Homo sapiens: one gene and its partners. The protein of the gene in region 3 purifies or fractionates together with the protein of the main gene of each other region. This does not show direct contact. Each region holds a gene or a part of one and is shown on either strand. Other genes may lie near its edges. The genes, in order: RUNX2, USP9X, SMAD1 and USP15.

Region 1 (8,270 bases), on a different chromosome or scaffold from region 3:
TAAAATTAGGATTATTATAATTTAAAATAATTTATATGAGTCTTTGGGAATTACTTTGACATTTTTAGCTTTTGATATGTGTTAGAGTGATTTTCTGTGTTTGTTCTTAACTTTGTAATTCTGCTCCCTAGTTTTGGAATTTAGCTCTGTATTTTAAAAAGAAGCTATAAAACTTTGTCACTACTGAATCTTGAAACTATAAATATATTATTGATATGGACCACAATTGCTGTTTTGGAAATCAGTGTTCACACATCATGTTCAAGCAGTTACAAAGATTTTATGTAGATAATCAGTCAGCTGATATATTTTCATGAGTCATTAATTTTAAGATACTCTATGAGTCACATCTGTGATTTTCAGCAAGCTATATTTATGATAAATGATGGACAGATTTTGAGTAGTACAGATTGAAAATTTTTGATTAACTCAAAGTGAAGTATGCTGAGAGATCAAGGACACAGACATACTCTTTCTCTAGCATGTGCGCGCGCGCGCGCACACACACACACACACACACACCACTCATTGTATTTGAGGTGAAGCAGTTGTTAATGTGTGCTTTGTACCTCACCTAGGAAAATCCTAAACTTTCTTTTTAACTATTTTACAAAATTGGGGCACATACTTAAGACATTTCATTAGGTGGTGGTGATAATCATTATATAAAAATCTAAAGCCTGAAGTGAGGTTTTAGGCTTTGCATAGATTATAGAATGGGGAAATGTTTGCAATGTGATAACATATACATGATGTCCACTACTCACCTGTAATTAGTCTGAGGTAGTGGGTTGATGTTAAGTTCTCTATTCAGGCTTCAAGATACTGTTTGGGGGCTGGCGGGGAGGGAAGGTGCAGCCCACTTTTCAAAAGAGGAAGAACTGGTTGTAATGTTGGAAAAAAAAAAGGTTCACTACCATGCCTTGCTTAGAATCCTGTCAAGTTTTGGAAATTTTGAATAGTTATTAAGAATGTTACAGAAGTATAAGATCCCTGTTATGATAGAATAAGAAGCAGTTTAATATATTCTTTGTGAGAATTTTAACATATTCTTCATGATAACTTTACTTCTAATACTGAAGAATTTTTTGAAACTTGTGTTGTTCCTGATCTGGTTTTTAAAATGTGTTTAAAATAAATAGTTAAACAGAGTGATAACGTGAAAGAGTAACTTAACTGCCTCTGTTATCCCTCCCTGATATCTCTGTTATCCCTGTTTCAAGTTATCCCTCTGTGTAACAGTAGTTTTAACTATTCTTTTTCCTTTTATCTCTTGGGTAGTAGTAACAAAACTTTCGATGTATAAGCTGTAATTATGCTATGTGTTGTAATGTAGTCTAGCTGTGTTTATGTCCTGCTTCCTTAATATAGAAGTTTTTAGAGTAATACTTGGTACCCATCATTAAAATTTTAAATTAATCTGTGATTATTATATTGTATATATTATAACTGAGGGGGCCCACTTACAGCTATTGAGGGAGTCACTAAAGCAATTTTACATTTTTTTTTGTAAAATACAAAGTACATTTCCTCACCCTGTAAGAGAAACCATTTTTTCTCCCTTCAGGTTTAATTATTTCTGTTTGACCTAAACTGAGACTGATCCTCTAGTAGTATCCAGTTAAAATGTGTGAAGTAGGAGGAGTAAAGGAAACTCCAGTCATTAGTTGTAAGTTAAAAGCAGAGTTAATATAGATGTACACAGCAAGAAGGTTTATTTTAATGGATATAAGAAAAATTTTTGAAAACTTGCCTTGTAGTTGGAACATGTTGGAGATCATAAAGAGAATCTTGTAAGTGTGTTTAGATATTTTGCTATAATAACACATCAGCTGATGAATGTTAAAGTCATTTACATATCTGTATCAACAGTAACTTGAAATTAAATATTAAGGGACAAGATTATGCCTACTTCTTTTAAAGTCCAGCATGGTTTAATAGTTGTGGCTTTTAAAAATCATACAGGGTATCCTTATGGAGCTTTATTTTTCATGAGACTAAACAGCAGTTATTCATTTTGGTAGGTCCAAGAATGTGATTAAAAGAATCTTAGACGTTTCAGTGTTTCAGTGTGTTTATAACAAGGTCTATGGATAACAGTGTGTAGATGTAAAATTAAAATTACATAGAAAAATGCAGTTGCATGTAAGTTTTAAAATACTTCCATGAACTTTTTAATATCCTGGGCAACTATAAAGATCTTTTAAAAATGGCTGTGATGTGCTTATCATAATTTTATTTCAGCTGAATGTATACTTATATAAAGTTGTTTAGAAACAAACTTATTTAGATAGGATACAGTTTGAATTTATAAGTAGATTTCTTTTAGTTGAGCTGGTTAAAATGTTAACTGTACTACAGGTTTATTTCTGTGTTATACATGGTAGACCATAATGTTGAGATAATTCTGTGGTCTGTTATTTTGTAAAATTGCTTCCTTTTTGAAGTTTGCTCAAATATTGGGAGCTGCCGGAGTCAATAATTTATAATGCTTTGATTAATTTAGGATCTGACTTTTCTTCTGGTGAGGGTTAATGAGAGTATTAAACTGTTTCTTTTACTGTTTTCATATCCTCACCTCTATAACTCTAGAAAACATTTTGATCAATGTGAGATAATTTAATTTTGTATATTTCAAGTCATTACTTTGAAAATTAGATACATTACAGATACCAAATGCAAATATATACAGAAATTTCATTTTTCAATTCTTAATGCAACAAGATAGCATAATTAGGATCTTTAATATGCTATTTGGAAAAGCTAGCAGTTTATCAAAGAATCATACCTTTATGTTTAACAGGTTCATATCTTACAGGATTTTAAAAATGGTAACACTTACCCCAAAAGAAGTTTTGCTGACATGGTGTCACTGTGCTGAAGAGGCTGTTTGATGCCATAGTCCCTCCTTTTTTTTTCAGATAGAACTTGTACCCTCTGTTGTAAATACTGCTTGCAGCCTTAAACTGAAAATACAAACCATACCCAAACCTTGTTTTAGTTTTACAGTATGCCTGGAGTACATAGACTTTATATTTATTTTTTTCTGTCAAGAAATTATGTAGCTGGTAACATGTGAAAAGCAAAGAAACAAAACAAAAAGAGAATGAGCAAATATTTGAAGGACCTACTATTACTGCATAGACTGTGGTTAGAGAGCACTCACTGACTCTGTTGGTCTCGGTGGCTGGTAGTGACCTGCGGAGATTAACCATTTAAAAACCAGAGACTTCTTGCTGTCCTCCTGGAGAAAGTTTGCACCGCACTTGTGGTTCTGTGGTTGTTTGTGAGGCGAATGAAGCATTCACACAATCCAAAAAAGCAAAAGCTTTAAAACTCCTTTTTTTTGCAAGCACTATTACTGGAGAGGCAGAATCATGTGGTTTGTGACCTCACAGTACTCTTAAGTAAAGTGGGACTGCCTACCACTGTGGCTTTTCCCCCTTGCTCTTTCTCTCTCTCTCTTTCTCTCACAAAAGGCTTGTGGTAAGGCCTTTCCTGGCATCCAGAAGGATATAGCTTTTTAATTTTTGTGACTCATGAGGATTTGGATAGAATACAAATGCTGAAGGAGCCCAAACTCCTGTAAGGTTAAGCATTTGTAGAGCAGAGCTCTGCAGTTAAGGGCTTTCCTTTCTACTCCCCGCTCAACCTCTGCCTTTTTGCCTCCTCTTTTTAGTTCATTATTGTGTCTGTGGAAAAATGAACAAAATTGGCTCAAGAGTCTGTGTGAAATTCTGAACAACAGTGATGATATACAATAATTCACATCTTTGGACTGTATCACATTCTGGGGTCTGCTTCATATTTGCTGGGTGGCTGGATTCCTTCTGTTTTCCTTTTTCTTGTCTTCTTAAACTTGTGAATCTGTAACTCATTGTAAAAAAAAAAAAAGTTTACCTTAAGGTCTGGTTGCAAACTGCTTGCTAGGCTTGACTATAATTGGCTGTCATGAAAGTGTTAGTCTGGGCATTCTTTTACAAATTTTAAATCACGTCTGTCTAGTTTATTATCAATCTATTAGATGGCGGCCTTTACAATAAAGATTAAATGTAATGTTTCATGTATACCATTATCTCATGCCTAGTTTGAAGATCTTAAAAAAATGAATGACAGGGATTGTAATATAGTTTATTGGATGAATCTTAGTTTTCTTTATGATTGTAATATTTTTTGTCTTTCATTGAAGTGTATTCAGTTTATATAGTTCTTTAAGTAGTTTAGACATTAATAGAGTTTCTGATAGCAGATCTTCTATAAAGTAAAATGCTTATGTTATAATGTAGATTGTTCAGTATTTGATTCTATGAGCTTAGAATAGAGTGGGTTAACAGAAGCTATGTATTTTTTTGTTTCTAATGGAAGCTTTGAAATAAATTACAAAATGCTGTGTGTAGTAAGGAATAATGCCCACAGACAGAGTATGTTAGTCGTCTCGATTTGCTAATTCTGATTCAGAAGAAAATTGGAAACATCTTTGGGAAACTATCTCCTTTTTTGCCCCTTTGGACAAGTATGTATAGAACTCATTTTCTTATTAGGATGATTATATATCATAGGCAGTGAATTTTATATTTATGAATAGAGCTTCCTGTTTTCATCAGTTGGGAGCGATGGAGTATTTTTCAACCAAAATTATAAAGGCGAACAGACCAATTTTCTAGGCATTTTTTTGCCATTTATCCATGCCACTCTAAATCTGCATGTTAGACTTCTTCCTAGTGTGACAGTAACTAGGAGTGGCATAAAGTAAATGGGGTGGGCGGAGACAGTGAATTACAAAAGATTATTTGGAATGTGCAGGGAGGTAAGGGCTAGGGAGACAGGAGGGTGTTAGAACTAAAATATCCCTGTGTTCTTCCTAGTGCTATTCATTATCTGCTTTTGGTTCATATTAGATCACAATAACTGTACAAATATGTTCATAAGTTTCTTTACAGAAAATTTGATTTTCCCAAAATACACTGGTAGGGTATGGGAATGATTCTAGTCCTTTATTTTTCAAATGTCCAGAACCTTTTCAGAATAAACTTTTAGTGATAAAAAACCAGAAATACATTTTGGTGTTTTATTTTAACTATGGATTTATCATGCCTTATTGTATGTGTAAACAGATTTTACATTGAAAGGTAAAAGCGTTCATTTAACATGCAGTTATTCATGTGAAGGAGAGAAAAATTATTTTTTCTCTTTTATAAATAAGTCGTATCCATATTATCTGTATCTCTAATTAGTATCCAAAGTAAACAAAAGGAGGGTTTTGTCCTTATAGCTTGTGGGATTTCCAAACATGGTTTCATGTGTACCTATAATAGCAGAATCACTTAATTGAAAATATGTAGGTAGCTGCTGTAGTATGATCAGCAAATGGTTTTCTTCTTTTCAAATAAGCTTATAGTTTCTACATTAGCATTCACTGAAACATCTTACAAACCCAACATTTTGCTATTTTCTTCCTTAAAATCTTCTTTATGTAAACTTTGGCTCTTCAAATTGACCTGATAAGAATTTAAGTAATTTTTAACATCTATTTGTCATTTAATTACCTGTTCACTTTTTGCAGGTAATCCTCCTGCATGTAATTTTTGGACCAGGATTTGAGAGTTTAGTAGATATTGTTATATATGCACTTTTTGTCCTCTGTGAGGCCTATCAAATTCTAGCAGGAGAAAGATAGTGAAATCATGTGCTTTAAGTTAGTATATTCATTATCCACATGAATTTTTTTCCTAAAACGAAAATATATCCTCTTTGGAGCAAATATTACTTTGTTGTAAAAATTTAAAAAACAATGACAACTGGGGCACATTTGATAATTGGTACACATTTGATAACAGTGTGTTTCATTAGAAATAGCTTACTACACGTGGTGAAGAGATACTGATTTAGAAAAGTCAATGCAAATAAAGCTCTTGATTATAGATTTATACCATGGTTATAATCAGAAATTGAAAACCACAGATTTATTTTTATTTTTATTTTTGCTTTTTAAAGACCCATAAAATTTTATCCTCTCTGGGGACATGTTAGTATTTGCTGTTTTGAAGTAAGCAACAAGTTTAGGTATACTGTATAAATCACATACTTTAATGCCATGGAAATGAAATACAGTTTTGATCTTGAAATCAATTTCAAAGAAAAAAAGTTGTTGGTATCTTGCTTCTCCATTGCTTTGTAGTGAATAAAATGTGTTAGAATTGGTTGAACTTTTGAAAATACCAAGGTATTTGTGTTTAAATGCTATGTGTGTCTTCATTGTAACCATTTGAGTAATTTTTTATTTTCTTAACTAATGATCATATTTTAATACATTAGTTTTACTTTATCAATATTGTGCTCATTTCTATGCATTTTTTTAAGGATTATTTTAGACTTATTTGCTGCTAACTCTATTCTTTTATTTGCTGCTCATTCTTTGAAAAACAAAGGAGAAAATGGTTTGATGCAGGAATTTTTAAACTTTAGAAGTCCTAATTTGGCTTAAAATGTTCTGATTATGAGGTTTTACGAAGGAAGTTTTTAACTTATTGTTTCATCTTGGTATGTGACTGTTTCTTATTTTACTTTTTTTTGACAATTTTTCTTTTTTTTGGATTTGATGTATAGCTGTTTAAGCTTACACGGGATCTATTTGGCCTTATATTGACTACTTCTGTTAGTAAAATATGTATAGTTTCATCTGTTAAATTATGGTGACTGTGCAGTATTCCATTTCCTTGTTTAATGGGGTATATGTTTATGTACACAACTGCATGCACATTTGTCTTATTGCGTATGTATACAAGGCATTGTTTTGTAGTACTTTTTGTAATAAGAGCATTTTTCTCAGTTTATTTTAATTAGATCAGGTAAAAACCCAAACTAGCACCATTTCCCTGATTGTTTGAACAACTTCATTTGATTAGTTTTAGCAGCTGTCTAAATGTGAGATTATGTGGAATGCCAGAAGAGAAAATGCTAAGTCAATCTCTCCTGCCTTCCCTCCCTCCCTCTCCCTATCTCTCTCTCTCTACCAATCTCTCTCCCTCTACCTGTCTCCCCCATTCCTCCTCTTTCCCTTTCTTTCTCCTTCAGGCTTTTTTGGGTTCTCTTCCTTTTTTCCCTCATTTCTATACAGCCTCAAAGTAGATTCTTAAGTTCTAGTAGGGGATATTGACATTAATCCTCACTAATGAATACTCGGTAGATTTGGAGCTCTTAACATTCATTAGAAATTGTTATATTCTAATATGTAATGCCTCAGTTGTTAGATAGTATTGGCATCTGATTATAGAGACTTAATTTCTTTCAGCTGTTTTTAATTGTTTCTTGAATCCTTTTATGCTAATTTACTTTAATACATTGTTCACATAGTATTAACACTTTAATTATGAGGATTACTTTTTTTTCTTTGATTATTCTTTGAAGTGCAGAGTGATCCATACTTGTTTAATGTAGCTGTATAAGTAATTCATGTTTCTTGTAATTATTAGAACAATTCATCTTTGAATGCTGTCATTTTTGTAATAATAAAAAAAGGCGAGAACTTGCAGAAAATATGGGAAACATGCTCATATGACAGCTGAGGATGTGGCTAGACTAAAGCAGGAAACTACTACCCACAATGCAATGTTACATACACTACCACTTAATATAATTTATATCAAACATGCTACTGACAAAACCAAAGAAAAATAATATCCCAGCTATGCTATTTAACGTATCTAGGGAGAAGTGAAAGTAATCTTTTTAGAACCTTTGTACTTAGAGAATATAGTAAATGAAACTGTAGGACATTATAGTATACGTTGGAACACTGCTGTAACTTTGTGCTATGGAACATGGCTGTAGGTAAAACTGTCCTATAATGAGAATCTTTTGTATATTAGCTTTCTTGGAAAAGGTACAAAAGGAAAATCTCCTCTCTTTCAATTGAACTCTTTTAGTATTAAATAGGATTAGAGGATATTATCACTTGGAAAAATAAGTTAAATTTTGAGATACTCATTGTCATTATCTAAACTTTTAGTATAGTCATGTATATTTCGTTACAATTTGTTTTAAGATGTCTTTTATTGCCAAGTTGGGGGTGGGACTTGAATTGTCCACTGAGGCATATTTCTTTTTCAAGTAATTGTTTTTCTTGCTCTTTATTCATGTTAATGGCTTGCTCTATCAGTCTATGTGCTTTACTGTAGGGAGGTTATTCTAAAGCAAAAATGTGAACTGCTTTTATAATGTGGTTGAAAAACATGTTAAGGCATCATCTAAAAAAATCGGGTTTTAATATA
Region 2 (7,540 bases), on a different chromosome or scaffold from region 3:
AGTTTGCCCACATTCAGATAAAAAATATCTCAAAAAAAAGTATGTGGGAAGAATAAGTGATAGGTGTACAATCAGGAAAATAAAAGGGAAATTATTAAATCCAGGATAAAAGTTGTCAGTGATCTAGAGAACTATATTTCAAACAATCTTGGAAACGTAGATGTTGAATCTGGATTTAAGCAAATACTGGGAGGATGTGGGGGTATGTAACAGTTAAGTTTTCATCTACACAGCAGAAAATCAGTATATATCTGTAAGTAACAAAGAAATAGCTGTATGAGGACACTCCAGACATAATGGTACATATATATACTAAAGTAAAAGCGAGAAGTTGGAAGTGGTTGTTTCTAAGGATAAAAAAGGAACAATACCGCAGATGACACATGACCCATATTATAGTCCAGGTATAGGCAAACATTTTCTGTAAAGGGCCAGGAAAGTTAAGCAGTTTAGGCTTGTGAACCATATGGCCTCTGCCACAACTCCTGGGCGGTGCTATTTTAAGACAAAAGCAGTCATGTAGACTGAATGTAAACAAATGAGCCTGGTTTTGATCATGGACACTAAAATTTAAACTTCATATAATTTTCATGTATCACAAAATATTATTCTTCTAGATTTTTTTTTTGTAGCCACTTAAAAATATAGCTCTTGGGATGCACAAAAACAAGCAGGGGGCTTGATGTGGCTTGTGGGCTGTCATCTGTCAACTCTTGTTATAGTCTATACCAAAAAGCACGGTCCATTTAGAAACAGAATTTGCTAATATACTCCTTTATTGTCCAGCAAGTACTTGATCATCATTTAAAAATTCTTACCTGGCGGCATAAGTTTCATAAGTACTCTTGCTCCATCTCTAAGGGGTGGCATATTTAGGCTGCTACCTAAGTCTGCAACTTGCCAAAGAAAAGAGATGTATCTGGGATGCAGTGACATTATCTAGAATATAAAATACACAAAATAATTACCTCTAAATTATTTACTCCCGTTTTATAAAAGCCCAAGTAAGTTTCTCTGTGTTAATCCCTATACTTTTACTTATGAAATTTCTACTCTTTGAAATAGTCTGACTTTCCCATCTTTTAATCCCTACAAATCCTTAATAGTGCAGATCAAATACATCATCAAGTCACTTCCAGTCATTTTTTTGTGATAGCTCCTCTCCTGTTCTATTAAACCATTTCTCTCATATATACAATTTAGACTCTGGACATAACAAAAGGCTGCCATGCCCACTACCAAATTCTTAATCCAGTTGTTATAGAGAGCCAAATCCTCCTGACACTGGAGTGGCTGCTACTATTGTAACCATTAAAATTTCTGTCGGGAGGGGCGAAAGGAGAGCTTAAAAATATTTCTTTGGCTATATGTTACTGACAATCTGATAAAGATTACAGGTATTTTCCTACATAGTTCTTGTTTTCATTTATTTATATTTTTAGAGATGGGGTCTCACTCTGTTGACCAGGCTAGAGCATAATGGCACAATCGCAGCTCACTGCAGCCTAGAACTCCTGGGCTCAAGCAATCCTCCTGCCTCACAGCCTCCCCAGTAGCTGGAATTACAGGTGTGAGCCACCATGCCCAGCTCATATATAGTTCTAAAAGAACTATCCGTTTTGTGGTATAAATTTTAGAAAGTGATACAGCTGACTCTTGAACAACACAAGTTTGAACTGCACAGGTCCATTTACATGCAGACTTTTTTCCCAATCAAATGTGGACAGAAAATTCAGTATTTCCAGCAAGCAAAACCCAAGTATATGGAAGGCTAACTTTTTGTATATCTGGTTGCACAGGGTCATCTGCAGCATTTTGGGTATATGCAGAGGTCCTGGAACCAATTCTCCACGTATACGAGGGATGACTGTTTTCCTCTAAATTTATACATCCAATAGTGTTATAATTAAGCTCTAATTGGTTAATTTTATGTAAAAGTAACAATACTATACCTATGGGGAAATTATGTTTTAAATTCCAACTGTGTTACAATTACCTTTTAGAGGGATCCATTCTGAAGTTGGTGGTTAACTGTATTTTTTTGTCTCATTAAACTGTAAGCTCCTCAAGAAAAGAAAGAACCACTCTATATACTTTATTCTCAAAAACCCTAGCATGATGCCTTACATACAGTAGTTCAAAACTGTATCTACTCACCACTCCAGGCAAACAGCTTTCCACTTCTGGATTGGGACCATCACTGTAATGATTACCATGGTTTCCAGGAGATCCAGTGGAGGAATCAGAAGAGCTATCAGGGCTTGAAGGCATATTGGAACTTATCTGTGTAAGTTTGGCTGTAATAAGCTGAAAATTATATACTATGTTAATATCAAAAACAAGGAAAAATACTTACACAAAACACAAAACTTAGTGATATACCAACCAAAAAATCCGAAAGACTACATGCTATACTTTAATGCTATAACTCTAACACCTAACACAGTCCCAAACATAACAAATGCTCAATTAGTATTTACTGATTAAACGATAGTCTCTGGTTTGATTTTATTGAAAAATCTGTTAACTATACATACATACCGATTTATCTTTTAAGTTTAATTGTCCAATCAACTTTCTATCATCTGCAGGATCTATCAGCTCACCGCCCACAAAGAGCTCAATTTTTGTATGGGCTACGTTGGCTTTAATACGATTGAGAATACATCGTCGTACTGAACCAATTGTATCATTTGTATGAGACCATACCTCCAAGTCATCAACCTGTCTGCCCTGGTTTGGAAATCGAACTACAAAAGAGAGGTGTTTACCGCGGAATGCTCTGGGGGGAAAAAGAAAGACAGACATCATCATATTCAGCAGACTCTGAAATTTTGTTGCCAAGAAAATAATGCTGGGGATTTAACACTAAGTATTTTCTTATTAAACAAGAGGATGTGAATTAAAGATACTTAATACAGCTTGAGAATCCCTTATATGAAATGTCTGGGACCAGACAAATTTTGGATTTCTTGGATTAGGGATACTCAACCTGTATTACTTTCAGTATCTTGAAAATAAGGCCAGGCATGGTGCCTCATGCCTATAATCCCAGCACTTTGGGAGGCCGAGGCGGGTGGATCACTTGAGGTCAGTAGTTCGAGATCAGCCTGGCCAACATGGTAAAACTCCATCTCTACTAAAAATACAGAAAATAAGCCAGGCTTGGTGGTGGGCGCCTGTAATCCCAGCTACTTGGGAGGCTGAGGCTGGAGAATCGCTTGAACCTGGGAGGCAAAGGTTGCAGTGATCCGAGACTGCACCACTGCACTCCAGCCTGGGCAACAAGAGTGAAATGCAAAAGAAAAAAAAATATTGCTCCTTTTAACTAAAAATATAAATAATATTTAAAAACATAATCATATTCTATTGTTGTTAGTCTTGTATCTATGGTTGCAGAAAATGAGGTGTCTACTAAAATGAAATTAAATCCAAGATATAACGCTTATTTTTATGCTGTAAAAGCCCAACTCACTAAGACTATTTTTAAATGTAAAAGGTTGGCTGGACGCAGTGGCTCATGCCTGTAATCCTACCACTTTGGGAGGCCAAGCAAAGAAGATCCCTTGAGCCCAGGAGTTCAAGACCAGCCTCGACAACATAGGTAGACCTTGTATTAATAAAAAAAAAAATTCAAAAAAAGAAGGTAGAGTTTACCTTTTACATTTAAAAGGTCGTTTTACATTTTGTTAAAAGCATCAACAAAAATGCCACAATGCACTTTATTTTTTTTCTGGAAAAAAGCCTTCATATCAAAATTCACTCCAAAATGCTATTTATATTGGTATAGTACCTTTTTTAAAGTAAAATACAAAATAAAAATCATATTCAAGAAGCAACTGTATATAATTTCATGATTAATAAACAAAACTCTTTAAAAAAAATGATGGCATTGACTACACAAAACATCCCAAAACTATAAACACCATTTGAAAATATTTGTTATATGCCATGCAAGGCAGCTTTTAAGAGCTCTTTACAGGCCAGGCACTGTAGCTCACGCCTATAATCCCAGCACTTTGGGAGGCCAAAGCAGGAGGATTTGCTTGAGCGTAGGAGTTTGAAACCAGCCTGGGCAATGTAGTGAAACCCCACCTCCACAAAAAGTCAAAAAAAATTAGCCAGGTGTGGTAGCCTGTGCCTGTAGCCCCAGCTACCTGGGAGGCTGAGGTGGAAAGGTCGCTTGAGCCCGCAGTGAGCCATGATTACACCTCGGCATTCCAGCCTGGGTGACAGAATAAGACCTTTTCTCAAAATAAACAAATAAACAAAAACACTTCAACTGCAAAATGCCACTGCAACACTTAATGAGTAATAATGTCAAAGACAAAAAGAAAACTAGAAAACAACTTAAGAATGCCTCACCCAAAAAACCAAAACAAAACCAGATGGGAGAGTGGGGGAGGTTATTAAAAAAAATTAGATGAAATGAAAATGTTTTTAATGGGCAAAGACAACAATTTTCAAACGAGAAAAATTTCTGCTCTCCTTTTACCAAATGGCTAGGAAAATATCAAATAATTAAGAATTAGCACCAATAGATTAGTTATTCACAAACCTCGACATAGGGAGAATTGTTCTTTCCTCATGATAATCACTGTCACATTCATTTATATATTCCCTTAAAACAGTTAATACTCGAACCATTCGAACAGCTTCCTGTCTTGCACAATTAACACTGTCTTTGTCACCATCCAAAACACACAATGTGTCATAGGAAGCCTTCAGACGATCAAAACAAGACTGAATGAAGTCTTCATGGATCACCACCTACAAATATCAGGCCAAATAAACACAGTTAAAATTGCTTTAAAATGTAAAAACCAAATATTAATCCAATTAAAGATGGCAATGGCTGATTTAATTGTAGCACTCAATTAACAACAGTCATATTTAAGTAGAGAATCCATACAATAATAAAATGTATGTTTATTAAAAGGAAGCTAGCATTACATAAGTTAACAAACATAAATTAGTCAAAAGTGAACTTCAGGATTAGGTGTTAGCATCAAAATGAATTCACATAGACTTTCTTTGCCATTTCAACATCTAATAAATAGTTATATTAAAAATAACCCAATCACTTCAAGACAACTAACAAGGCAAGATTCATTTAGATAATATTTTTTCTCTTTTGTATAAGAGAAATGGGGGCCGAAAGAATTATATATGGAAGTTTTAATGCACATCAATCCTCACCTGATTGACTTGTAGTCTTGGACCAAGGTTCGTGTATATCTCTTTGAGGAGATCTATAGCTCTGCTGGCAATATCATCATTACTCTGAATCACGACCTGGTTTCAAAATGATAAAAGTATTCATCCCTTTCAACATATATTTTTGTTGGGCATTTAAATTCAAACCATATCCTCAGTTATCTTAAACACACTATTCAATGATTTAATGGTAAGTTGACTTTGATAATCAAGTAAAATTAAGTGAGAAGCACAGACCAAAAGAAAGGGTAATAAATGCAAAATGAAAGTCTCTGAATAATTTAAGAATGAAAGGTACATTTTTGTAAAAATAAAATACGCTTTGACCACTATTATTTAACCCTATAATTTAATATCTTGATAACCAAGTGAGACACTCAAGAAGAAATTCAAATTAGTTGACAGGAAATAAGAGATTACATGAAACACAGTTTAGCATAAAGGACTACTCTACCCCCAGTTTCTATAAATCTTTATCACTCATCTAATTACATTAGTGGTTTCCAAACTATGTTCAGAACCCTAGGGGACTTTGAGGAAGTGTTTCAGTGTTGGCCCCTATAAAAGGGTTGGGGAGGGGAAAGGGGATAAGCATGGGGAGACCAAGTAAGAAAACATATTTTCCTTGTTCAATTCAGTTTACTTTTGTAGTGTGGTGCAAATTTTGAGTTTTAAGATGTGTTTCTGCTGTTAAAACAATGTTGAAAACCACATACTTAATTAAAAGCTTTTAAATACTCAAATGCCACAATAAACATCTTTATCTATGGTTTGCAGGAAAATATGTGAGACATCCAAACAATATAAACTGCTGTATAACAGGTCAGATTAAAGATAGGCATAATAGAGTAGTACTATAAAAATAGATTAGCCTTAAAAAGATAGTATTTTATTCCCCCAGGTATTTAAAAATATCACAAGGTAAACAGTGCCAATAAAGCATATACTCATAATCTATACTAAACACAAGTCCTCTCTTCTGTCCTCTATTTTAGTGTTAAACATTGAAGAGGAGGAAACAGATCGACACTGAATGAAAACTCGGGAAGGAACATTAATATCCACGGGGGAGGAATGAAAGATTTGTATGTTTAGTGCACATCTATGGAATACACAGATACTAAGCTAAGACAAAAGGAACATCAGTGGCAGGAGGAGGGAGAGGAAGAGAGAAGAAAAAGCCCACTGACAGGTGACATAATAAAAATGAACAATTCCTAACTACACCAAATTCCTGAGACAAACATCAGAGTAAAATACACAATTTATATGCAAAATTACAATTCCTTACGTACATGAAAAAGTACATCAGACACCATTTACAGAGTTCCTACTTTTGACTTACCCTCCAAAGGTAATCTAATCCTATTAACTCCAAGTCATCCATCATATAGGCTCTCCTTTTTGCTACTAGTTTTCCTTCTCGACAATTCACAGCTTTGAAGAATCGCTCAAAACACTTCATTCCATTTTCAGTTAACAGAGAAGGATCAAGCTGAAGCACATTACTTTCAAAGAAGTCCTTATTAATATCAGGATCTAAGTCTGGTTCATCCCCCATCAACTTGGAATACCACTTAAAACAGGCTTCACGATCACAAAGGTAAACTGCATTCTCAGCTAAGCATTTCCATATTTGTTTTGCCTGAGGAGCACATAGCCACAGCTGACCATCCTTCAATAAAAATCTTGAAAAAACATTGAAAATTGGCAATTAGATTTATGTAATTTTTATCCGGAAAGGCAATCTGTATTACCTATAAAATACATTTATCACCATTATATTTTAACTATAGATAAAAAGATATTCATTCTTTCAAAATAACCTATTTCTCTACTTTTATCTGGTACTAAAAAAAAATCCCCACTAGATATTAATTAATTCAACAAGCACACACTGAACACCCACTTTGTGCCTGAAATGCAGCTAGCTGAATTAGGAATAAAAGATTCATTCCATGAACCTTTAGTTTTTGAAACCAGACTTTTGGAAAGAAGCATGTTTAGTAGCTTGAGTTAAAAATAAAAGACTTAGGCTGGGCACAGTAACTCACGCCTGTAATGCCAGCACTTTGGGAGGCTGAGGTGGGCGGATCACCTGAGGTCAGGAGTTTGTGACCAGCCTGGCCAACATGGCAAAACCCCATCTTGACTAAAAATATAAAAATTAGCCGGGTGTGGTGGCTCATGTCTGTAGTCCCAGCTACTGGGGAAACTGAGGCATGAGAATCAATTGAACCCGGGAGGCGGAGGTTGCAGTGAGCCAAGACTGTGCCGCTGCACTCCAATTAAAGATGGCAATGGCTAATTTAATTGTAGCACT
Region 3 (7,540 bases):
AAAAAGAGTGCCAAATTTCTTGCCAGTAGACTTTAAGAAAGATACCCTAAACAAAAATATACTTAACATCTATTAATGTTTTCGGAAGGGAAAATGACTGGGCAAGTGTGTTTATTGGGCTGCTTGAAATGTTTTTAAGTAAATTTGAATTCAACATCAGTGCTAGGCCTTCAAAAATTGAAAAGTGGTCCACATTTATATTGCTTTCTTTTATTTATGTATTTATTACCTTCTTTTATTTAAATCTTGTTTATTTCACATTGTTTTGTCCGGTTTTCAGTCCAAAGCTGTTTGGGATGAGGGTTGGGAGACAGACTAGTTTAAAAATCAAAGTAACTGGTGACTTCCTGTCTACCTCTCTCCCTTCCTCCTCACCACTAACCTGTATGATGGGCAGGTTAGTGGTGAGGAGATACATTTCAGAAGACTTTTGAGCAGTGGCAGCCCAGAGTGGCCCCAAGATTGAATTAAAGGTTATTGCTTGAATTTACACTTTGTCCCTAAATGTCAGGGATTAAGGCAAAGGCCAAGTAATGGAAATATGGAAAACAGTTGCAAGGGATGGGAGGAGGTGCCTGTAGGAATAGTAGAATAGTATCAAGAATTATCGGGTTCCTCTTGGTTGTGCTGATGCCATAGGTTGCCAATGAAATTTTCACCAGCTTCTTGGCAGAAATTCATTGACTTGGGCTCAGAGGAGGCTCTTTGTCTTTGTTCCTGGCTTGAGATAAAGCCGAGTCAGCCTTACAGCTGCAGAGAAGAGGCTGAATTAAAAGAAGCTGAAAAGGGGCAAAAGAGGCATCCAGAGAAGGTCCCAGTAGTCCCATCTCAGTACTATGAGTTGTTGCTTGTTAGCAGCTGGATGTGAAGTTACCAGGTTGTGATTCAGCTGGAGAGTGAGTCTTGGAAATCACTGGGGCTCTCTGAAGGAACAACATGAGTTGTTTGTATTTGACAGTTGCTCTGAGTGGTCTCGATTACTTATCCAAACATTCACGATTCCCTCAGGTAAAATTTTGTCTCCAAGGCTCTGACACATATGCTAGATGGGCTCATGATAGCTAGTGAGGAGCTTGCTTTTGGATGGAAAAGGATTATTTGTGAGAAACCTATACCCTTTGTTTTATATTAAGAAAATGCAAGACTTGTGTTAGTGTTCTTTGTTTAAAAAATCATGTTTGCCTCTTATTTGCCAGAAGAAACATATATGTAAATTCTGAAATAGGAGATAGCTGTGATAAACTGATTCATTTTCTGTTATTCTGTTACTAGAGATTTTAAAGCTAGTGATTATTTAAATGAGTAGGGAGAGTGTGGTCCTAACAGATTCCCTAAAGTCATGGAAAATTAACAGTTCAAATCAGTAGGCTATAATGAAACTTGGTGAATTTTCTAAAAGCCCATAGATTTAATGCAAAAGACCCTGAAGCTCCTTTTCTTAAGAAGTCCAGTGAAGCTTTCAGAGGTTTTCCATCTATCAGTGAAACTGAAATGCAGAGGTCCTCTCAAAGCAGATTATATTAAAGTGTGCTTAAAATACTCTTCTGATTGCTTTTAAACAGCATGATCCTGCATAGGCAAACAGCTTCTGGAACTGGCATATAGTATAATTCTTTTCCTCCCACTGAATTTTCACAAAAATGTATATGATTGTGGCATGGTTAATACTTTTCAGAAATTGTACATCAAGGCAGTGCCTGTAGCCTTTAGTCTTTTAATGGGGAGATTGAAATGACAACTTGATCTCTTGAGAATTTCAGTACAGAAGAGGATACGTGTTTTGAGCATGTATGTTTACTAAGGGTTAAGAAATAACTTCTTTAAAAACTTTGTAGCTGATACGCCCCCACCTGCTTACCTGCCTCCTGAAGACCCCATGACCCAGGATGGCTCTCAGCCGATGGACACAAACATGATGGCGCCTCCCCTGCCCTCAGAAATCAACAGAGGAGGTAAAACTAATTGCTGCCTGTTCCCTTTTTTAGAGTCTAAAGTTTGTCCAGATGTTACTTTCTCTCACAAATTTTTATTAGTCTTTAAAAAGAGAGCTACTTGAGAAAAATAGAGTCCAATGTTAAGAGAAGCTCACTACAATTGCTGGATAACAAGTAAGTCTTTAATTTAAAGAACAAATACACTGACTTAACTAATGAAGATCTGAGAATAATTTTGCAGTTATCTGTTTAGATCTTTAATACTTAATAATTTTTAACTGATGATGAAAATTTTTTTTTTGTTTTTTTTTGAGACGGAGTTTTGCTCTGGTCACCCAGGCTGGAGCACGATCTTGGTTCACTGCAACCTCCACCTCCCAGGTTCAAGTGATTCTCCTGCCTCAGCCTCCTGAGTAGCTGGGATTACAGGTGCACACCATCACGCCCGACTAATTTTTGTATTTTTAGTAGAGACAGGGTTTCACCATGTTGGCCAGGCTGGTCACGAATTCCTGACCTCAGGTGATCCGCCCACCTTGGCCTCCCAAAGTGCTGGGATTACAGGCGTGAGCCACTGTACCCAGCCAAAAAGAGTATTTTTAAATGAACAAAATGGTATTTAGAAACAATAAGTATAACAGTACTGAAGTAGAGTTTTCACTGGTGATTTCCAAAGTTGGAAGTTGGTATAACTGGGCTGTCCAAAGGCTTTCTTCTGTAATTAGGATAGATACACATAAACCCCGTCTGTTTTTCAGCTCTTATGTATGTGCAACTACAACTGGAACAAACTAATAGAATTTCTTGCTATTTGTTTCTAACTTTGTTACTAAAAGGAATTGAGGCACAAGTTTTTCCCCTTCTCAGCCTGAAGAACTTGCAAGCAGAAATGAAAAATTTCTTTCCCCCTTTAGTAAAGGGTGGGTCTTTGATTCCAGCGCTGTATATATCCTTAGCAGTGACCGAGTGGAGGATGCCATCATTCTTCCAGCTCTACATAGGCAAGTAGGATAGACTTAAGTGAGCAGAGAACTCAGGTAAATAAGTTCGGTAGACTCTCTGAGAAATCTGTTAGAATCCACAGCCACCCTGGCAAATAAAACTGCTCCTAAATAACCTCTCATGAAAGAAAGTGCTTTGCTGCTGCACTCAACACATGGCATGGGTCATGCAATTTATATAATGTTTATGCAAATTGAAGTTAAAGTACAGTTTGGTTACTAGGTATGTCTTGTTTCATTTTAGTGCTTTTTTATTAAAATAGGAGATACTTATTAAAATAGGAGTTGCTTATATTTTTAAGTACTTAAAATTGATTTTGTCTCTATGACACATTATACAGTGGTAACTGCATGTCATTATACATTTATCCAAACCCATAGGATGTACACCATAAGTGAACCCTGACGCAAACCGTAGACTTTGGTTGTAGGTCTGTAGGATGAATGTCGGTTCATCAGTTAAAACAAATGTGCCACTCTGGTGGGGGATATTAATAATGAGGGAGGCTAGGAAGGTGTGGGGGTGGGGGGCATATGGAAAATCACTCTGTCTTATACTCAGTTTTGCTGTGAACCTAAAACTGCTTTAAACATCGATTTAAAAACTGGTGATGAAGGCTGGGCGCGGTGGCTCACGCCTGTAATCCCTAGCACTTTGGGAGGCCGAGGCAGGTGGATCACCTGAGGTCAGGAGTTCAAGACCAGCCTGCCTAACATGGTGAAACCCTGTCTCTACTGCAGATGCAAAAATTAGCTGGGTGTGGTGGCGGGCCCCTGTTGTCCGAGCTACTTGGGAGGCTGAGGCAGGAGAATCACTTGAACCCAGGAGGCAGAGGTTGCAGTGAACTGAGATCACACCATTGCACTCCAGCCTGGGCAACAAGAGCAAAACTCAGTCTCAAAAAAAAAAAAGAAAAAAAAAATTGGTGATAAACTCAAAGGACCTTTCTTGGATGTGCAGTGTCATAAATTGGAATGTACACCACTTTAATCATTATGATTTTTTAAATCTTTTTTATTGCCTCTGTATTTTATGGTTCCTGATTATCTCTTGAACATCTTATCAAACATAATTCTGAGTCAATGAACACTCTGGTTGGGGGAAATAACCCCTATCTCACACATCTGTGGAATTTATATTTGGGGACCAGGATACCAGGAGAGAATAGGCACAGTACCACACTATTAGGAGCATGTGGACCCAGTAACTATTATTACTAAACCCAAAATGTCTGATTTCAGGAAACAGATCTTTAAATTGCTTTAAGATTTTTTTCATTTAAATAGCTTTAATTTTTTTTTCCTTTATAGTTTATAGTCAGTTAATATTTTCACGAGGAAGGAATGTTGGCCATTTTTTTTCTTCCCCCCGCTTTTTTTTTAACTTGTTTTTAACCTTTGGTGATTTTCCTAGAGCAGGGGTGAACAAACTACAGCCCACAGGCCAATTCAGCCTGCTATCTGTTTTTGTAAATAAAGCATTATTGGACCACAGCTGTATTCATTCATTACATATTGTCTATGACTGCTTCTGTGTTACAAGGGCAGAATTGGATAGTTGTGATAAAGATTATACAGCCCATAAAATCTTGCTGGCCTTTCACAGAAAAAATTCATCAACCTCTGACCTAGATGAATAGTATTTTGAAGTATCCTGATAGCTGATAAAAGCCTTCTGCTAATAATGTTGCAGTCTGCTTTAAGATTTGGCACTTGTAAATCACTAAAGTTTTGCTCTTTGAATTATAGCAAATTGATGTGGTAGAGTTGCTTAGCAAGCAGGGAAGATAGTGTATGTTTTTAGCTAACTACTTACATATGTAAAGCGACTAACTTATGTGTGGGTTTTTTCATGAGTATTTTCCTTGTTTTTTTTTTGTGTGTGTGTGTGTGTGTGTTTGTTATTGTTGTTTTGTTTTTTACCAAATTCTAAAGTAAAGTGCATTTTAGTATTTGTGGAATTTGATGTTAAGAACACAGAGGTGCTTCTCCCTTAGCAGTTGTAGTCTGGGCTTCTGATGTGGACTTTCTTTCTTTTCCTCCTTTTATTATTGTACACCCAAGACTTCATAAACCTCAGATCATTATATATTGGTATGCTGGAAATATATGGTTTGTATTCCTGGAATCTCTAAAGGAGTGGTACAAGAGGTTTTACTACAGAAGGAATTCATCTTTAAAACCTTTTAGTTGCAAATGTTTAGAACCATGTTCTGTTTGGAGATTTGTTAGTCTTAAGAGATTTGACTTAACAAGCTGCATCCTGTCAGTAAAGTTGGGTAATTTCCATTGTTGGCCCATTCTGGGAATGGAGAGACAAAACACACCTGCTCTGCATGACTTAAAGCAAATATAAGGAAGTTAGCATGAAATCTGGATGAGAAAGATATGATTCATTCTGTAAGAATGGCCAGCTGGCAAGATTTCTTCCTGAGTTTGAGAACTGGAGCAACACTGTAGCTGTGATAGTTATTGGCAACTTAATATGAGGTAAAGTAACTTCTTATCAATAATTAGAAACTGATTTTCATGGCTTTGAATAAGCATAGGCATACTTAGTCTTTGCCAAAAGTAATTCATTTTTATGCCAGTACCTTTGGCATATTTTCAGTCTTCTATTGTTCTCTTCCCACTTATTTTTTCACTTGTCACTTGTGTTTCTTTAGATGGTGAGCCAAAGTCTGTGGTAGGGGTGATTTCCATTTCTGCATATTACAGAGCAATTAGCATATTGTTAATATTCAGCAAAAGTTTTTGCTGTGCTTCCTTAGCTGGTGTTTTGGTTATCTGATAGTAATTGGAGAAAATTGTTCTCCAATTTTCTCCAATTAGGAGAATAAGGAGAGTGTCATATTAAGAAGTACCTGCTTTAAACATCATAGAAAAACTGTATACATTATAATAGCAATTGCTTTTCCAGTGTCTTCATTCCATGATCCTGAGCCAATTCAACAACACGGTTTCAGTTTTTGAGAGCCTGAGGCACTAACCTTGGTTGATATAACATTTTCTTTCCTCTAGATGTTCAGGCGGTTGCTTATGAGGAACCAAAACACTGGTGCTCTATTGTCTACTATGAGCTCAACAATCGTGTGGGTGAAGCGTTCCATGCCTCCTCCACAAGTGTGTTGGTGGATGGTTTCACTGATCCTTCCAACAATAAGAACCGTTTCTGCCTTGGGCTGCTCTCCAATGTTAACCGGAATTCCACTATTGAAAACACCAGGCGGCATATTGGAAAAGGTGAGTTTTTGCTTTAACCTCTTTCAGATGTTTATCTGTTGTGTCCCTGTTCCTCCAGAGCTGACTTAAAATCATTCCTGTAACAAACTGTTGTAGCAAAGACCAGGTAATGTTCACTTGCTGCAGTTTGTAAATATTTTTCCAGTTTCTGCTATCTGGAAGCTCTTGCAGTCAGTGATTTTTGTGGTCGATCAACTCATAATATTGAAATTAATTAGTTGAAATTATGATTTGCCATTTTAAGACACTATTCTGTATGATATTTTGCTGCAGAATAAATTGGCTGTTATAAAATGAATCACAACCTAAAATTAAAAGCAAATTACAGTTAATTGCTTAATTGTATTTCAAATGAATACCATAACTCAGTAAATAGAAAAGAAAGAACTAGATTTTAGCACAAACATCGTGCAAGGTGGCACGATAGAACCCTGCAGTGATTGTACCCCCACAGGGACACCAAATTGAACAACTGTCCATATAAGACAGCACCTTCAAAAGAACAAAAAATCAGGCATGGATATATTTATAATAAGAAAAAATAAAGACCAAAAAACAAGCCTAGTAAGTTATGAATATAGTAAGTGACTATATATCCTCAGCCTAGGCTGAGTGGAGTAGATAGAGTAGGGGTAGGATTTCAAATAAATCCCGAACTCTTTTTAGTAAACTTGATTATTTCATAGCAGTATGAGTGAAACCATTCTGAAACTTTCATATGTAAAGATGAAGCAAATGACTAAATGTGTGGATATTGTTGGGAGCTTGGGTTTCCACTGTGGAAAACAGACATATAAATGCGGAGGGGAGCAAAAAGTAAACCCTGTGAAGGAGAATAGAAGTATCAGTGCAAAATTCTGATTTTAGTAATACATATGTGTATGTATGTATGCATGTTTATGTTCTCATGTATTACGTATGTGTGTATGCATGGGTATGTATATGCGTTTTTACTTGCGTATAGTTTCTGATCTGCCTGCTGAAAGGGCCCAGAAGCATACATACCCAGTAGCAATAAGCACATCTAGTGTTCAGATCATCATCGCTAATACCATGTCCCACTAAAAGGAACTAGGGCTCCTTGAAGAAATGGCTTACCCCTAGGCTGGGATAGGTAGGCATAGGAGGACCCTGGAGCATCTTGTTGTGGCAGAAAGTAAAGAAGTGCTTATGGAACTCATGGGGCATGCCTCAGGAGCCAACTTAGAGGGCCTTCCACTGGCCAACTCTCAGACAATTTGAGCTCCAAAATAATTACAGTGATGAATTTTACTTCATTTTATTTATTTATTTATTTATTTATTTATATTTTATTTTTTTTTGAGACGGAGTCTCCCTGTGTCACCCAGGCTGGAGTCCAGT
Region 4 (7,540 bases), on a different chromosome or scaffold from region 3:
ATCATCTAAAAGGAAACGAATTTCTATTAAGCTGGTTTTACAGCACTGAGAAACTAAATACCAACTTATATACTTCAACCCCAGAAACATCTTACCTTATCTGCAGGTATTCCTGACAAAGCAGACAATGCTGTACAAAGATCTAATATGTTTCCAATTTTGGGGACAACCACTTTGTACTAAAAAACAAAAAAAATTGTAATGAATTTATTATTTTGGAAAAAAAATTCAGTAAATGAGAGTGACCTCATGGTTGCTATCTCACATTCATTTGGCATTTGGATTAGTGTTTGTCTCCAATCTTGCCACTATCCTGGGTCCTGTGTGACAATGCCCACATGGATAATTTGTCCTAGTTTTATCATTCCTTGGCTCCTCAATTCAAAGACACTTGCATTAATTCAACCTCAGTCAACTTATTAGATCCTGTCATTACTTGAAACTGCTCCCACTTTTGCTATCTTTTTTTGTTTGTTGTTTAGAGACAGGCTCTCACTCACTCTGTTGCCCAGGCTGGAGTGCAGTGGCATGATCTTGGCTCACCGCAGCCTCAACCTCCCGGGCTCAAGCCATCTTCCGAATTCAGCCTCTTGCGTAGCTAGGACTACATGCGTGTGACACCATGACTGGCTAATTTTTATTTTTTAGAGACAAGGTCTCATTATGTTGCCCAGAATGGTCTCAAAATCCTGGATTCAAGTGACCTTCTGCCTCAGTCTCCCAAAATGCTGGGATTACAGGACTGAGCCACTGCACCCGGCCCCACTTTTAGTATCTTAAACTCGGGTTACTGTCTAACCACTACTTCTTGCTTCTCCTGGAAATTCATTCTTATCTCTTCTTGTCTTGCACAGAGATTTCTATTCCTTTTAACTCTTGTTTTCTCCCAGTTTACCAGCTCCCTACTGTCTTCTAGCCCTTCCATCCAGGCCCTACATGCTTTATCACGAACCTTTAATGTCTTTGTTACTCAATTCTATTCATTCCACTCTTGCTAAACTTTCTCAGAGCTGTTCACATGTGCTGAAGAGAATTTCCCAATTTTAGAGGCTGGTGTGCTACAAATCCACAGTGCCCAATATCAATTGATCCTTTGACAGTACTCAGAAATAATTCTGCATATCACACATGTGGTTATTCTCTCATTTATCTCAATAACTATTTAAAATCTTCATTGGGCTGGGCCCAGTGGCTCACGCCTGTAATCCCAACACTTTGGGAGGCCAAGGCAGGTGAATCGCTTAAGCCCGAAAGTTCGAGACCAGCCTGGATAACATGGCAAAACCCTGTTGCTACAAAAATACAAAAAATTAGCTGGGCTCGGAGGCGCACACCTGTAGTCCCAGCTACTTGGGAGTCTGAGGCGGGAGAATCCCTTGAGCCCAGGAGGCGGAGGTTGCAGTGAGCTGAGATCACACCCTAATGTACTCCAACTTGGGTGACAGAGCAAGACCCTGTCTCATTAACAAAAAAAAAAAAAAAAAAAAAAAAATCTTCACCATTCTTTAGGCTTCCTATTTCACTACTGCTCCCTTAATATCAGCAGAATACCTATTTCATCTCAAAAACAGAAACTACTGGGTGGGAAAATCTCCAACTTCCTGTTCTACTAACTTCTTTGAATCCACATAGGTACTTTTCTGTCTCTTGCAACACATGGAAAGAAAGATGTCTCTCTTCTTATTCAAAGCTAACCTTAGCGTCTATGTTCTAAATCCCATGCTCTTCTGCTTTCTCTGGGACCTAAACCAAGCAATTATTCTTTCTTCCATTTTATCTCAACTCTTGCATAAGCATTGGAATATAAAGTCTCTCAAAAAACAAGGGTACCTCATTGCTTTCCCTCTAATTATCTCCCCTTCTCCTCTATTTTATAAATAACTTTATTAATGATATCTATATTATCATAACTTCCTTATCTCCCATTTACTTCTCAACCCTCTTGCTGGCTTGTCTTCGCCTCTTTATTTAACTTGTTTCCAAGGTTGCCAATAATGTTGTACAACTTATCAGTCTTTATTTTATTGACCTCTTTGTAATATGACTGCTGACCACTTTCTCCTTAAAAAATTCCCTTTCCTTATAACACGACTACTTTTAATTCTTTTCTATTGCTGTGATCATATTCCTCTTTTGAAGTTCTCCTACATTGTTCTTTAGAGTGTTGTCTTTAGCCTTCTTCTCAATTTTATATGCTCTCCTTGGAAGAGGCAACAGTGTCTCCTGATTTGCTTTGGCCAGTCCTGGATTAGCCTGCTATCCTAGTATAATTATTAATGACAGTCCCTTCTATTTTCAAGAGTTCTTGTTTAGATGATAAATCACGGGGTCACCTTAGCCTTAAGTAATCTCATCCTTCTAAAACACTATCATTTTCATAGAGCTGATTGTCCAATTTATAGCTAAAGCAGTCTCTCTCCTTTGGTCTAGATACACAAATTCAATGCCTACTGGATATCTCTACCTAAGTGTTCCTCATGCATCTGTAAGTCAGCATATCCAATACTAAACACAGGTTTGGGTCATGTTAGGCCACCACGTTCAATACTAAAATGGATTCCTTCTTCAACTTGTTCTTCCTATATATTCCACTAAAACAGCACTGCTGTCTCCTCTTTTCCTGTCAAGTAAACTTGGCATCATCTTTGAATATACTTACACATTTTCACTTCCTACATTCAACTGGTTCTTCAAACTGCCATCCTGACAGAGTTGAAGTGTTTGTCATTTGTCTGTCGTCTGATCATTAAAAGCTTCTTACCTGGTCTTAGTACTAAGCCTTTTCTAACTGATCTCTGTGCTACCCAGAATCATCTTTCTGAAACATAATTGTGGCCATATAATATCTATACTTAATAGTCTTTAATGGCTTCCCTAGTTTTTAGGATGAAGTTCAAACTTCCTATACTGGCATCAAAGTTCTTCGTGATCTAGCTCCTGCTTGCCATATTAACTACTGTAGATTACAGAAGTGGGCCATGTCCTCTTCTCCCATAAGTTCTTTGTACATGCCATTATCTTGGCCTATAATGCTTTTATTTCTAGTTTTCACCTGCTTATAACCTAATTGTCCTTCAGAATTTATCACAGGCCTCATAACCAGTTTGGGTAGGTTACTCTGTGTTCTCTTGCAGCACCCTGTCAGAGCAATTTTCACACTGTATGACAAGCTTCTTGAAGAACAAGGACTAGAAACACCATTATATTTCTAGCACCTTGCACAGCATAAGAGCCTAAGATATAATATATATTCAATATTTTTCCTAATAAGCTTCCATGACCTAAATCAACTTCAATGACGGGAAAACTCAACAAATAGGGAAACTCAGCTAATTTCACTTTTCTTACAAGCTGGTCAAAGCATAGTGTTAATGAAATGAGGTGATCATTTTGTATTTGAGTTGTTACTGCCTCTAAATGGAAAAAAGGAAAAAAAAAAAACACAAAACACAAAAACAAACGAATTTCTCTGTGCTAACCATGGCTCTAACCTCCGCAAATTTATATTATTGGTCACCAAATGAGAAAAGTGATAAGTCAATGAAATTCACATTGCTGGAAAAATAATTTAGAGCCCAATTTATGGAAGAGCACTTATCATATACCTTATGGACTAATGTGTAAATTAATGCAATTTGCCACTATTGATATAGATTACCTTATATTATTGGCATGGGAGAATATTATCTCTAACAAATGTGCTGTAGAGAAATAAAACATCTACATTTATTTTTTGTTGCAGTAAATTTATACTTATTATTCTACGCTCTCTTGCTCCATTACACTCATTGGTGTATATCTGCAAAGTTATAAACTAGAGAGGTAAGGATGTGGTTTGGCACTGTTATAGTTTCTCACCATTGAAAAGAATGTTGACAATCTTGTACTTATAAACGAGTGAATAAGTGAATATCTAAAGGATATAACTTTAAAAATGTGAACACATATTCCCCAGGCCAAAAGTAAAAGCAGGTCTTTATTGGCTCTGCTCACAGATAAGGGATAGTACTTAGCACTCTCCAGTGAAATACTGATATGAGGGCATTGTGTTCAATGAGTTCATAAAGAAAACATAAAGCAGCAGAAAAACAAATTGCTTAAATTTGCATAACTGAGTACATACCTAGTATCTACTAGACTTTAATTACTTTGAATAAAAGGACTGTGTGTTTATGAACACTACATATACCCTGTCTTTGTTGACAATAAACCCAAATACATCCCTGAATGGTAAGATCATAATTTTGTTCAAATATAGCTTTCATATAGACATCGTGACTATTATGCACTAACAAACTGAGCTATTTGGCTAAAAATTTACAGAAAACAATCTTCTAAAGCAGGAATCATATCTTTTTTGTTTAGCCAAAGAGCTTTATACTTAGTAGGTGCATAGTTAAGTATCTTGATGAATAAAATTTTTGAATACTTCTTGTGCATTAATATTTACCAGCCACAAAAGCTGGAAATACAAAGGTTTACAAGGTCTCTGTCTTCAAAGACTTGTAGTCTAGGGATAAAAGATAAAAGTAAGCCAAAAGTTATAACAAAATTAGTTAAGTGTTAGAATTTAGGGAAAGAGAGGTAGAAAAAGAAGAAGTTACTTTCACTGGGATGGGTCAAGTGTCAGAAGAGGATTAACTGATTAATAAATAAGGGAGAAAAGATAGTGCTTTACCCACAAAATATAAATAATCCAATTATAACACTAGGTAACGGAATCAGGCAGACAATTTGACAGTAAGACTTACCACAGGACTTTTGCACAGAATAAACAATATGTGATACTTCAAAGTATTAGAAATTAGAGAACATCACTGAACAAAATATTTTTAGTCTAACTGAATTTCTACTTTCTTTTAAGTTCCTAAAATGCCTAAAAATTACAGGTATTTAAATACACTACTATCACACTATGAATTAAAAGTATTAGCTTTACTTCCAATAGCCACTAGTAAAAAAAAATTACAATTAACACTAAAGAAAGTTGAAGTTTAAAAAAATTAAAAATATTATGTTGATCTTCATAAGCTAATATTCACCCCAATATTATAAAAATAAACCTCTATAAAAAGCCTTTTGAGAATTTTTTATAAGACACACGTTGCTCTTTCAAGACTGTAAAAAGTTACACTGATTTCCAAAGTATTCAGCTTATAAAATCTCTTATACAAATAAACATTATTGATTGGGCTTGATAATTCAATACTTAATTTTTATAATAAGGACTCAACACTAATTTTTTAATAAAAATAACAAATGCAAAAAAAAAAAAAAAAAAACAAAACAAACCAACCCATGATTTACCTGCATAGGTTTGGTAAGTGGATCCATTCTAACTAAGTAAACTTCCAAGGTGCGTTCTTTTTTCATGGGCAATGGAAGTGTCAAGTAACAAAAAGGATCAAATGTTACTGAAATCTTAGCACACTCAGGACAAACTAAAGTTGATTTGAAAAGGCCATGAAATATATCTACTATGATAGAATCATTTCGTTTTAAATGGTTTTCCCAGGCTTCTTCGGCAACCACCTACAAGGATAATAGACACAAATTAGAAAGAGGTATCACAAAATTATAACAATGGTGACAATAGGATCATGAAATTTACCTTATCTGGCCTTCCATCTGCATCTTTTAATTGTATATATGGTTTTTTCCTAATTCTATTCAAATCCTCATGTAATCCATCTAATAGGAAAGCTAACAGTTCTTGACAGTCTTGCTGCTGATATCCAGAGAACTGAGGTGCAAAACGTCCTACCTGTGTCTGTAAGAAATGCAAAACCATCAAATCAGTTCTAGGAACAGGGTTGATTTTTAAACATATGTACAATAGATTCTCATTATTCATGGATTCCACATTTGTGAATTTGCCTGCTTTCTAAAATGTATTTGTAACCCCAAAATCAATTCATGGTCATTTGTAGATATTTTCAGAGTGGCAAAAAATTTGAGTCACCTGATATGCATGTTACCAGCTGGGGTTGAACAAGGTGATGCTTTGGCTTGTTGTTTCAGCTCTGAATCTATAAACAAGTGTCCTTTGTAGTTTATTTAGTGTTATGTTTTTTCACATTTTTGTTTGTTTTGTTGTTAATTTCAGTGTTTAAAATGGTCACTAAATGAAGTACAAACATGCCAGCTAGTGTTCCTAAATGCAAGAAAGCTGTGATGTGCTTTATGGAGAAAAAGTATGTGTTAGATATGCTTCATTAAGACATGAGTTATAGCACTGTTTGCTGTGAGTTCAATGTTAAGGACTCAACAATATATATTAAACAAGTTGTTTTTAAACAGAAACACATGCAAAACAAAGTTATACATTGTCTGGTTGACGAAAATGTTGTGAACAAAGGCTTGGAGGAATCAAACCCTATAGTTTCCCTAGGAGTAATGGTTCAGTAGTTGTTATTTCAGTGTTTGTGGCAGCTTCATTGAACATAACTCCTGTGAATAATAAAAATTGTATACACGAACAACAGGAATATATATGAATTATATTTTGTTTTGCATTCCTAGTAAGCACTCAACAAAGCTTATCTGGGACAAAATAGATCAACACATGTAATCTTTAATATATAAAAATGTATTGATCTTTGTTTGGTCATAGATTTCATTGTCATTAATTGTTGTTTCACTATTTGTCAAAGGATTTTCCAGATGTCCTTAATTCTTAGCTTTAGGTATTCCTATTGCCTCCTCCTATAAATGTCTGGTAGGTAGACAGGAAGAGGCAGGTTCTCATCCTTGCTATATTACCACATAAAGATAATTACGTATCTGAAAGCATTTTTAAGATAACTACTCTAGGCTCTCACTTAGTTTCTATGCGCAAAAGGAGGATGAGTATCACAGAGATAACAGAAACATTAATGTTCATATTCAATTTTCCTAATCTTTCATCACTAAGTATTTTTGTTTTTGGATGAGACTGAAAATAAATGTAATAGTATGAATCATCATCTGACAGAAAAAAAGTCACACATAAAGAACCTATTTACACATAATTTTAAGAGAGAAAATCTACCAAAATAAAACCAATTAGAATGCTAGTAAGAGCTGAGAGATGGTTTGTCTGGACTAGTTTGTCCAAAGTTTAGAATGTTAAGGAAGACAATACAGAGGCATTTTGATTTGCTGGTTTTTTATTTTCTAAGAACTAGTATATAGCTAATAAAAAATGTTGTCCAGTAGATGTCCTCTATCAATGCCATTTAAATTACTTGTATAAATAACGACTTAAAACTGCTTATTCTCTCTACAAGTTTAAAACTTCTCAAAGTTTCACCTATATAATTAAGTAGGCATTTTTTTAACAATATAAAGCTAAATTTCAGCCATAAAGCTAAATTTCAGCTCAATTCTTATTTGAACAATAAATTATTTGATAAGTAACAATTCACACATGTGAATAACCTTAAAAGTTTAAGAACTATATTGAAAGTACATTTAATTTTTAATGCTTGGTTTGCAGACTATTTTCATTTTGATAATTTTTCAAATTCATAATGACTCTCAAAGTAAAATGGGTTCTTAG

What was found.
Region 1: the proteins of SMAD1 (region 3) and RUNX2 purify together in Homo sapiens (affinity purification with western blotting; 3 studies listed by BioGRID). This does not show direct contact.
Region 2: the proteins of SMAD1 (region 3) and USP9X purify together in Homo sapiens (affinity purification with western blotting; 2 studies listed by BioGRID). This does not show direct contact.
Region 4: the proteins of SMAD1 (region 3) and USP15 purify together in Homo sapiens (affinity purification with western blotting, with the first as the bait; 2 studies listed by BioGRID). This does not show direct contact.

What each region holds. Positions count from the first base shown.
Region 1 is NC_000006.12:45,323,357-45,331,626, reverse strand, and holds the start of RUNX2 (runt-related transcription factor 2), read right to left. Parts: upstream 3,298-8,270; 5' UTR 3,167-3,297; exon of another isoform or gene 3,132-3,166; intron 2,967-3,131; 5' UTR 2,901-2,966; coding exon 2,843-2,900; intron 1-2,842. UniProt on the Homo sapiens protein: Transcription factor involved in osteoblastic differentiation and skeletal morphogenesis. Essential for the maturation of osteoblasts and both intramembranous and endochondral ossification.
Region 2 is NC_000023.11:41,165,237-41,172,776, reverse strand, and holds part of USP9X (ubiquitin carboxyl-terminal hydrolase 9X), read right to left. Parts: intron 6,906-7,540; coding exon 6,563-6,905; intron 5,296-6,562; coding exon 5,200-5,295; intron 4,771-5,199; coding exon 4,559-4,770; intron 2,783-4,558; coding exon 2,542-2,782; intron 2,308-2,541; coding exon 2,158-2,307; intron 940-2,157; coding exon 819-939; intron 1-818.
Region 3 is NC_000004.12:145,540,747-145,548,286, forward strand, and holds part of SMAD1 (mothers against decapentaplegic homolog 1), read left to right. Parts: intron 1-1,835; coding exon 1,836-1,952; intron 1,953-5,956; coding exon 5,957-6,178; intron 6,179-7,540. UniProt on the Homo sapiens protein: Transcriptional modulator that plays a role in various cellular processes, including embryonic development, cell differentiation, and tissue homeostasis.
Region 4 is NC_000012.12:62,382,070-62,389,609, reverse strand, and holds part of USP15 (ubiquitin carboxyl-terminal hydrolase 15), read right to left. Parts: intron 5,771-7,540; coding exon 5,612-5,770; intron 5,533-5,611; coding exon 5,308-5,532; intron 180-5,307; coding exon 96-179; intron 6-95; coding exon 1-5. UniProt on the Homo sapiens protein: Hydrolase that removes conjugated ubiquitin from target proteins and regulates various pathways such as the TGF-beta receptor signaling, NF-kappa-B and RNF41/NRDP1-PRKN pathways.